Regions from separate parts of the Homo sapiens genome. Here region 1 is linked to region 2. Evidence: fine-mapped expression QTL. A gene starts in region 2. The other region holds a variant in brackets. All regions are shown on one strand. Distances are between the middles of the regions.

Region 1 (5,383 bases), 33 kb after region 2:
CCTACATTTTTAAAAGCTCACCATTAAATAGTACTAATTATTATAGAAAATAGTCACAGACAATTATAAACACACTACTGTTTCATCTTACCTCTTTGTCTGGTCCACTCCCCCATCAATACTCAGTCTTCCAACACATATATCAATTAGAATATTTTGCATCTGCATAATTTACTGCAAGAAAATCTGCTGTTGTGGACTTTAAGAAGAATGTACACTATCCATTAGAGTGGAAAGGGGCCAAGAGGATTAATAAGTGCCACCAAGTTTCTAAAACTGCAGAATCAGAGGCATTGTGCATGCTGACAATGGTTTAAAGGGTCTCTCAATTTTACTTTAATCCCCCATTTAACCTTTGTTTCTTTCAAAAAATCAACTGAAAGCGGTTAACTGAATATAAATCTATTTTACAGCATTTACTACGTTAATTTAAAAATCAACATGCTGTAAAATACTTACATTATTCACACATATATAGACGGAATCATCCAGAACATAATCAACTGCCAACCCCCCTTAAAAAAAAAATCAACAAATCAGTTTTTATTTGCATGGCCAATTATCATTTGTACTCTTTGCAACTTTATTTAAAAATCCCTTTAACATGTTCTAATCTTTTGTTGCACAGGGAATAAAAGCTGCAAGACTGCAAACTTCCTTCAACAGCCACACCCACAACACCTAGACATGAAACAGATGTAACAAATAACAACACCACAAACAGAAATACTGATTTCCACCATTCAACACAGTTCATGACAGTGTCTTTAGGGTTCAGTTGAAGAGGGGGTAAACTTTTAAAAAGAGGGTCAGTCTGCTTTCCCCCTGTTTTATAATGTTGGTGGTTTTAATCCGTATTTCTTTGCAACTTCTGTCTGGGCATGGGCGGCATCGCAAAGTGAATACAGATGGGCCATCTCCATTTCCGATTTGGCCAGGTTAATAGCTTTGTTGAACATGTCAATGGCTTTCTCCATGTTTCCTCTAAAAGAACAAAATTTTTAAGTCTCAGATTCAACAAGCACTTCACAATATTCAATGAAGGTTGTAAGTGATGGTACATGAAGTCTGACCACTAAGTTTCTTCACAATATTCAATGAAGGTTGTAAGTGATGCTACATGAAGTCTGACCACTAAGTTTCTACTATGATTCTAGTAAAATGCTTCTTTTAAAATAAACAAGAGTACCTACCACATTGAAAGCACTCAATGAATGTCAACTACTATTACAAATACTATGTGCTTACATTATATCCCTTGTATTCTGTGTTTACTGATAAGAACAGTCAGACTAGGGAAATTGATTGGCTTATTTAAAATCACAATTCCGTCTGGTTCCTAAATTTTACATGTTTCTACTGTTAACATGAGACTCCTTTAGAAAGCAGTGACATAATACCGGGACACTAATGACATGCAAGGGCCTTACCTTCACAGACTGATGTGGGCCCACCTCTTTCTGTTTCATCTCTTACCAGCACATCCCCAACCCCATGCATCTCTACTCTTCAGGCAGTCTATGTGAGTTCCTCACACCTACTCAATAAATACTCAGATTTATTGCCTCTGCCTGATTCTGGTCAAATCCACAGCTATCTAAGAACCAACTGTTTTAAGTAACTAGTATTAGCTACATATATATGCAATCCTACAAAGAATATTAAGTCCCTACTATATATATATATACCTGCATATACAGAGTCTAACTGGCATACATGTTAGTAAGGTACATTTTATTGGCATATGTGCCAGTTAGACTTTATATGCCAGTAAGAGGTACCACTAGGGTGACTATATTTAATCCCCCATTATAATATATGGCAACGTGATAGGCTTATTTTTAAAAAAAACTTTTTTCAAGAGTTCATGTTCTGGCATTAGGCCAACAGCTAGCAGATCTGCAAAATCCTAGGATAATCTGCAATTTCATTTATTCAAATTCACTTATTTAATTGTAAGGTTCAGAATGGATTTTTTCAAAGTTCAATTAACGTGAACAAAATTCCATCAAACCCTATCAGAGGTCTTTAGTTAACCCAGGATCTATGAAAGCCTTGAATTAAAAGCAAAGTGTTTTTGTGTGCATTATTCTAAGAAGAATCCACAGCTTCGCTCAAAAAAGATTAAGAACTACCACCCTATCCTATTCTAGTACAAGAATATTTTATTCACATTAACAAATTAGCAATTAAGAAATAATTTAGGCTGGGTGCAGTGGCTCACACCTGTAATCCCAGCACTTCAGGAGGCTGAGATGGGCAAATCACTTGAGGCCGAGAGTTTGAGACCATCCTGGCCAACATGGCAAAAGCCCATCTCTGCTACAAATACAAAAAGTTAGCTGGGCATGGTGGTGCATGCCTGTAGTCCCAGCTACTTGGGTGGCTGAGGTACAAGAATCACTTGAACCTGGGAGGCAGAGGTTGCAGAGTCAAGATTGTGCCACTGTACTCCAGCCTGGGCTGGAGACTCTGTCTCATAAAAAGAAGAAAAAAAAACTTAATATTTACATGCCACTGTGGGTACAGAATGGTTAAAAGAAACACAATTTTTTTTTTACCAGCCTATATATATTCTGCCTACTGTAGAGCAGGGAGAGGACTACAGGAGGGGCTGAATGATAGGGAATTAAGAAAACTCATGCTGCTTCCTGACAAGTGATAATGCCAAGATCAGTGACTGTGGTATCAGTGATATATGAGCTCAAACCCTGTCTTCTCTATTGGCTTACTGTGCAACCTTGTAAACCTAAGCCCTCTGGGCATCAGTTAAATTAGGGATCATATAATCTCCACCTTTATAAAGATGGGGATGAAGATTAATTGAAATAGTACTTAGGAAACATCTAAAGTTTAATACTTGGCCTAAAGTAGGAAACTCAAATGAATGGCAATACCA[G/A]TATTAAGATGGTATACAATAAATCCCATATATAAAACAGCTGTCACCTTTTAATGGTGGATCTTAAGAGCAACTCTGGATAAACACTTACACAAAATAAGAGGTTAAGGACAGAGCTGCAAAAAATGTTCTTATCCAACTCTGATTTTAAAGAAAATTCAGGGGCTCTGAGTTGATGTTGCAACTTGCCCAGCCATTTGGCTGGATGCTTCTTTGGAGGAGGGTCCAGATTTTCTGGCAACTTGGCTACCAATCCTTATGTCACTGCCTTAGCACATTTTTTTTTCCAACGTGAATAATACAGGTGAAAAGAGGAAAGAACATAACAGACTTTAACATGTACGTAATAAGAACAAAAAGCTAAATATCTATGGAGCTACCATATATTTCCTAACAGACTCCAGAAGTTACCTTTGTACTTCAATAGTTCCCATGGTTTCATAGGCAAAATCACATTTATTGTCAATTTCAATAGCCTTGCTGATAAGTTCCAAACCTCTATCCAGATCTTGCTTCCACTGAAGTTGAAGTAAACTGCAAATGCAAAAAAATGTCAGATGTGACCATGGCCCAGTATCAGTAGGAATACACACACATTAATATGACTCAATTTCTGCCTTCAATGAACTTATAAGTTAACTTATAACTTATAAGGCAATATATAATCAGCATCAAATTGTGTTTTTTTTCTCAGCTTATATTGGTTTGCTAGTCTAAGTTCCTTATTACAAAAAGTGTTCAATGGTCTAGGCTCTATTACCAATCTTGCATCCCTTATTTTTCACTTTATATAAATTTAAGTGAAGTTTCTTAGGATAATTCAAGTACGCAAGGACACGAACACTTGTGTATGCTTCGTATTTGGATATAAGCCAACAGCTGACAGGATGTTCAGTTTGAAATTAAAACCCTTAACACAGAGCAAGAATAGTACATTAATTTCTTTCTTTTTGTTTTTTTTGGGACAGAGCCTCACTCTGCCGCCCAGGCTGGAGAGCAGTGGTGCAATCTTGGCTCACTGCAACCTCTGCCTCCCAGGTTCAAGTGATTCTCACTCCTTAGCCTGCTGAGTAGCTGGGAATCGGGCATGTGCCACCACACCTGGCTAATTTTTTGTAGTTTTAGTAGACACCGGGTTTCACCATGTTGGTCAGGAGGGTTTCGAACTCCCAACCTCAGATGATCTGCCTGCCTCGGCCTCCCAAAGTACTAGGATTACGTGTAAGCCACTGCGCCTGGCCTCCTTAACTAATTTCTGTAAGAATGAAAAGACATCTAGGAGCATTAAGAAGTTTGTCAATTAACTTCTCTACCACAGTCCCCTTCCTCAGTGGCCAAAATAAATACATTTTATTACTATGCAAGAAATTTATTATCTCATTGGAACAATCACAAAAATACATACCCTTTATGAACATATGTTGTAGCATTATCTGGTTCCAAATCAATACATTTATCATACATTTCATCAGCTTTACCAAACTGTTGTTGATCTGTTAATGCCTATGTGAGGAGATACTTCAGTTATATTAAGGTAACCGTCAACCTAAGCAGTTAAAAGTATACTTATTATTCATTATAAAAATTTACTTCATTCATTATTACAAAATTATCACGTTTTGGGGATACAGACTGATTTACATTTTACATCTTAATTATCGGAGTTTTTAGGTGGCACTGCTATAAATATGAAATCTTAACTATCCTCTTTCTTCAGCAAGTGGTTAGTTATATGCCACAGCAGATAATCTCTGGTAAACTGTTCAATACAGATAATCCCATTCTTAGTCACAGCTCTAATATCACATTCTCATAGGTACAGTCACATCACTTATTCATAATTTATCATAATACAGCCCAAGGGAATTTTTTTTTTTTTTTTTTTGAGATAGAGTTTCATTCTTGTCACCCAGGCTGGGGTGTAGTGGCGCAATCTCTGTTTTCTGCAACCTCCGCCTCTTGGGTTCAAGTGATCCCCCTGCCTCAGCCTCCTGAGTAGCTGGGACTACAGGCGCCCAACACCTTGCCTGGCTAATTTTTGTATTTTTAGTAGAGATGGGGTTTCACCATGTTGGCCAGGTTGGTCTCGAACTCCTGACCTCAGGTGATCCACCCACCTCGGCCTCCCAAAGTTCTAGGATTACAGGAGTGAGCCACCGCACCTGGCCAGGGAATTATCTTAAGGGCAATATTCATTTGGAAGTATAAGTTAAGATGTATGTGTTAAATGTCTTCAGAGCTATTTGTTTAAAATTATTGATTTTTTAAAAAGCAGCTATAACTGCTTCAACTAATATATCTCCAAAAATAATTCCCTAATATTATCTATAATACCTAGCCCATATTCAGTTAACCCCGGTTATTTATAAGATGACTTTTAAGAAGTATGTGAGTCATTATATTTAGCTGTATGGCTCTTAGTCTTTTCATATCTAAAATAAGCCAACTTAAATATTTTAAAAATCGCTCTTAAAAATATCAAAG
Region 2 (5,383 bases):
GATCCATTTGGCCTGGTAGTTTTGTTTTTTGGCCTATTTTCATACGTCAGATGAACAGGAACATGGAAACGAAGGCAGAGCTGCTGCAGAGAAGGGACAGTGAGGGGAGTGGTGGTGGGGAGGGCTGCACAAACTTCACCCTTCAGCCAGATTCTTCTTCCTTTGCCTCTAAATCCTTTCACATACAGGTGAGGAAAAGGTCCTGAGGGTGAGGTGATTTGCCCTAGGTATTAACATCTAATCAGTGTCAGAGCCAGAACCAGAACCCAGTGACTAGCTTTTCCATTGTGCCCAGAAAGTTCTAAAGAAAGGTTTAAAAAGCGCACTTTCATTTAGCTTTTCCTTTTCTAGGAACACCCCTAGTGCCCAAGTCAGCAGTTTCCCTGCATGTGACAGAGGGACACAGTACCCATAGGCTTTTGGTCTTGATGGCCTTCTCCTGGTCCTGCTTCTCTCTCTCTCTTTTTTTTTTTAATGGAGTCTGGCTCTGTCACCCAGGCTGGTGTGCAGTGGCACAATCTCGGCTCACCGCAACATTCGCCTCCCAGGTTCAAGTGATTCTGCTGTCTCAGCCTCCTGAGTAGCTGGGATTACAGGTGTGTGCCACCACGCCCAGCTAATTTTTGCATTTTTAGTAGAGACGGGGTTTCACCATGCTGGTCAGGCTGGTCTCGAGCTCCTGACCTCTTGATCCACCTGCCTCCACCTCCTGAAGTGCTGGGATTATGTTAATTATTAAATCTAGGAGGAGGACACAGCTGTTCCTCCACCAGGCAGTGGCGCCCGGCCTGGTCCTTCTCCTCTAATGGCTCCTTCCCAGGCTCCACAGGCCCTTCTTCTTTTGCGTGTGCCTTTCATACTCCGCTTGTGTGTTCTCATCCAAATTCAGAGCTTCCTCTTAGTTAAAACTGCTGGTGACTCCCAAGTCAATTTCCAGCCCAGACATCTTCTGAGCTTGAGGCTTTGGTCCGGTTGCCTACTGGGCATCTCCACCTGGATGCCATGGCTCATGCCTATAAGGCCAGCACTTTTTGAAGCCAAAGTGGGAGGATCACTTGAGCCTAGGAGTTTGAGACCAGCCTGGGCAACACTGTAAGAATCCACTTCTAAAAAAATGAAATAATTTGCATTTTGAACAAGCACTTCAAATAACATTTCCAGCCAGGTTTAGGACCACTATTAGTTACAATGTTAGTCCAATAAATTTGGAAATCTAGATGAATTTTTTTAACAGGTTGTAAGTGACCACAGGTTGACCCTGAAACCTCATAGGTTAATAAGCATAGCAGAAATGAAAAGGTTTTTAAAGATCTTCCTGCTACAAAGCCAAGTCCAGATAGTCTCTTAAGCTGCAGAAAGACCATAACTGCTATGTATTTCCCCCCAATTTTTTTTTATGAAAGCTTAAAATTTTAAACTTCTACAAAGTTTTAATCTAGTACCATGAACAGCTGTGTCCTCCTCCTAGATTTAATAATTAACATTTTGCCATATTTGCTTTATCTTATGTGTTTTCTTTTTGCTGACGATTTTCAAGTCAAACATTCTGATGGTTCATCCCTAATACTTCCTCATTTTCTAAGAGTAAAGAATTGTCACAAGCACAACACTATAGCACACAAAATAATTCAGAAAAGCATCAAATATCTCGTTCATATTTAAATCTCCCTAGTTGCCCCCAAAATGTTTTTATAGTGTTCTTTTACAAACCAAGATCTGTTTCAGTATAAACTATTCTGGGGCATTCCAAAAGGTGGTTAAGTTTTGGATTTTTGTTCCACAAGTCTGACAAGGCACAAAAACACAAAACACGAAAATTAAAAAGCAATCTAATAAATAAAAATGCAAAAATCATAGTCTATAGGCTGGGCGCAGCAGCTCACGCCTATAATTCCAGCACTTTGGGAGGCTAAGGCAGTAGGGTCTTGAGCTCAGGAGTTTGAGACCAGCCTGGGCAAAATAGCAAGGCCCCACCTCTATTAAAAGTAAAAAACTTAAAAAAAAAAAAAAAAGAAAGAAAGAAAGAAAAAGAAAAAAGGAAAAGAAATAGCTAGGTGTGGTGGTGTGTGCCTGTAGTCCCAGCTACTTGGGAGGCTGAGGACGGAGGATCGCTTGAGCCGGGAGGTTGAGGCTGCAATGGGCTGAGACTGCTGCACTGCACTCCTGACTGGATGACAGAGTGAGACCCTGTCTAAAACAAACAAACAAAAAAGGATATTAGCAAAGAGATGACAATGTATTCGAGGACTGACTTGTTGAGGGCATGGCGTTGAACCCTCAGCATCTTTCCCGTTGGCCTAGCAGCCTTGTAGTCAGATTTTACAGACGTCTCGCGTGCCTAAACCAACCAGGGTCATTCCGTCCCCGTCACAGAGACTTGTTCAAATAGCTCAAGCCCATCAGCATACGGTGTTAACCTGGCCACAGAGGTGATTCAACCAGCTAGAAGTTCAGTCCTTTTGCGGAGAATCAGCAAACGCTACAAATCAGGGCTTTCCTCCCTGAAAAGTCTGGTTGTTAAGACATTCACCAGCACACCACCTCGACTTAGGCCGTTCCCTTTTGCCCTTTGCCTTTCGAGGCATGCTTTTTCCGGACTGTGTTGCAATTAACCATTTCTCGTTGGTCCGTCCTGGTGTTACAGGCGCACTGGAATGAACGCAGACCCTTCTCTCCTCCCGGCCGGGGCCAGGAGGAGGGGTGGGGCGGGGCCTCTGACGCGGTCCCCGCCCCACCGTAGCGACGCCGCGGTCCGCCGGATCTCCAGCGCTCAGTCCGCGCCGCAGGTGGTGCTTGTCTGCAGAGTCATGACCTGTAAGTGGCGCGGCCGCGCGCTGCAGCTCGAGTTCGGGCCGCGGGGGAGGCTTTGGAGCGGCGCCGGCGGTGGCTCGGCCGGCTCAGCCCCTCCGCCCCGCGTCCCCGCCGTGCGCGGCCTTCCCTGAGGCGGGCGTCCGCGTGGGTCCGGGATCGCGTGGCCGGGCGGCCGGGCGCACTCCCGGGATTCCAGGCTTCCGGGGTGGCGGGCGAGGCCCAGAAAGCACCAGGCCACCCGGCCGCGCCGGCACCCGCCGCGTCCTGCTTGACAGAGGCTGATGGACGTGTATTTCTCCACGGTGTGGGCCGCGGTGGTAGGATCCAACTCCCTTGGGTGTTTTCAAGTTGCGTGACCTCCTCCAGCCCCGCCCTGCACAAAGGTGCCCAGGCGGTTCTTCGTCTCCCCACTCACTTTCCAGCTCCAGATTTTGACTTGGATTCTTGCTGTGTCACTTACTTTGTTCAGTGACTTTGTGCAGCTTTCCCCCTGCAAGTCCCCTGTTTCTTTATTTGTAAAATGATGTTAATGATACCTCACACAATGATGTTAATGTGTGAAGGACCTGGCACATTGCTTTAAATGTTATTCCTTTGTTGTTTCCTTCGCTCACAGTATTTTATTCTTTTTTTCCGCCCCTTGGTAAGGTCTTCGTTGTTAGATTATGATGAATATTAGGGCAGCCTTAAAAGTCTTCACTTTACAGATGAGATGGAGTGACGGGCGTCTCCTCCTCAGCATGAGGAACTGCCCAGTGGCGGGGTTTCCCTGCTGCAGCATGTCTGTAGAGTGGGTCATTTGCAGAATGATAGGCAGTCCTAAGCTTAGTTGAGGACCCCGCCCTTGTGGGTGAGATGTGTAGGAGAGGAAGCCATCAGCGTAGCCATGGTGAGCTTTATCTTTCCCACCCTCGGAAGCACAGACATGGCCCGGCACGTGGCTCACGCCTGTAATCCCAACAGTTTGGGAAGCTGAGGCACGAGGATCGCTTGAGTTCACGAGTCAAGAGTTGGAGACCAGCCTGGGCAACATGGCGACACCTTGTCTGTACTAAAAAATACAAAATTAGCCCGGTGTGGTGGCACGCCCCTTTAGTCCCAAACTACTTGGGAAGCTGAGGAGGGAGAATGGCTTAACGCTGGGAAATGGAGGGGAGACGTTTAGTGGATTTATCTGCTGTTCTGATAACAGCTCAAAATATCTGTTTGCCCCAGAATAATCCCAGCTTTTATTTCCTGTTTTAGTTTCCCTTCAGATTCTATAACTATTTAGCAGGCTGCCTTCAGGGTTAAATTTAGTGCTTCTCACTATATTTAGGATAGATCAAGGAATGGGACATCTGAGTTTTCCTTTTAGTTAACCCTGAGCCAAACAGGCCTTCATCAGAGGCCAGGGTTTGTCATTGTTGCCTTTTCTGGAGACATTTGCGTTGTTACAGGAAACACCCAAAAGAGATAGCTCTCTAATGGTAGGATTTTCAGACTCTGGAGCAGAGGTGGGATGGGAAGTTCGGGCAGGCCATTACTAATTGAAGGGGTGGGTTGCCCCTCCACACCTGTGGGTGTTTCTCGTTAGGTGGAACGAGAGACTTGGAAAAGAAAAAGACACAAACAAAGTATAGAGAAAGAAGTAGGGGGGCCCAGGGGACCAGCGTTCGGCATACGGAGGATCCCGTCGGCCTCTGAGTTCCCTTAGTATTTATGATCATTCTTGGGTGTTTCTCGGAGAGGGGGATGTGGCAGGGTCATAGGATAATAGTGGAGAGAAGGTCAGCAGATAAACACGTGAACAAAGGTCTCTGCATCATGAACAAGGTAAAGAATTAAGTGCTGTGCTTTAGATATGCATACACATAAACATCTCAATGTCTTAAAGAGCAGTATTGCTGCCCGCCTGTCCCCCTTCCAGCCCTAAGGCGGTTTTCCCTATCTTAGTAGATGGGACATAGAATCGGGTTTTATACCGAGACATTCCGTTGCCCAGGGACGGGCAGGAGACAGATGCCTGCCTTCCTCTTGTCTCAACTGCAAAGAGGCGTTCCTTCCTCTTGCACTAATCCTCCTCAGCACAGACCCTTTACGGGTGTCGGGCTGGGGGACGGTCAGGTCTTTCCCTTCCCACGAGGCCATATTTCAGACTATCACATGGGGAGAAACCTTGGAGAATACCTGGCTTTCCTAGGCAGAGGTCCCTGCGGCCTTCCGCAGTGTTTGTGTCCCTGGGTACTTGAGATTAGGGAGTGGTGATGACTCTTAAGGAGCATGCTGCCTTCATGCATCTGTAACAAAGCACATCTTGCACAGCCCTTAATCCATTTAACCCTGAGTGGACACAGCACATGTTTCAGAGAGCTCGGGGTTGGGAGTAAGGTTATAGTTTAACAGCATCTCAAGGCAGAAGAATTTTTCGTAGTACAGAACAAAATGGAGTCTCCTATGTCTACTTCTTTCTACACAGACACAGTAATAATCTGATCGCTCTTTCTTTTCCCTACACTAATAATTCCTGAAGTTTTGCAGAGCTTCATAGATTATAATGTGCTTTGGATCCTTTACTGCTGCGTCCCACCAG

The links.
Region 1: its variant is fine-mapped to the expression of NIT2 in blood mononuclear cells (TOPMed, PIP above 0.99).

Annotation. Positions count from the first base shown.
Region 1 is chr3:100,364,734-100,370,116 of GRCh38, forward strand. It overlaps TOMM70 (translocase of outer mitochondrial membrane 70), which reads right to left. Exons shown (of 12, transcript NM_014820.5): 10 at 4,305-4,402; 11 at 3,311-3,433; 12 at 1-984. The coding sequence ends at 831. Among named protein-coding and RNA genes, the nearest start is that of NIT2, 33 kb to the left of the region's middle. The variant G/A (reference allele first, on the strand shown) is at 2,900.
Region 2 is chr3:100,331,985-100,337,367 of GRCh38, forward strand. NIT2 (nitrilase family member 2) reads left to right here and starts at 2,773. Exons shown (of 10, transcript NM_020202.5): 1 at 2,773-2,814. The coding sequence starts at 2,808. RefSeq lists enhancers at 2,541-3,109, 3,203-3,252, 3,273-3,332, 3,453-3,532 and silencers at 2,773-3,102, 3,501-3,795.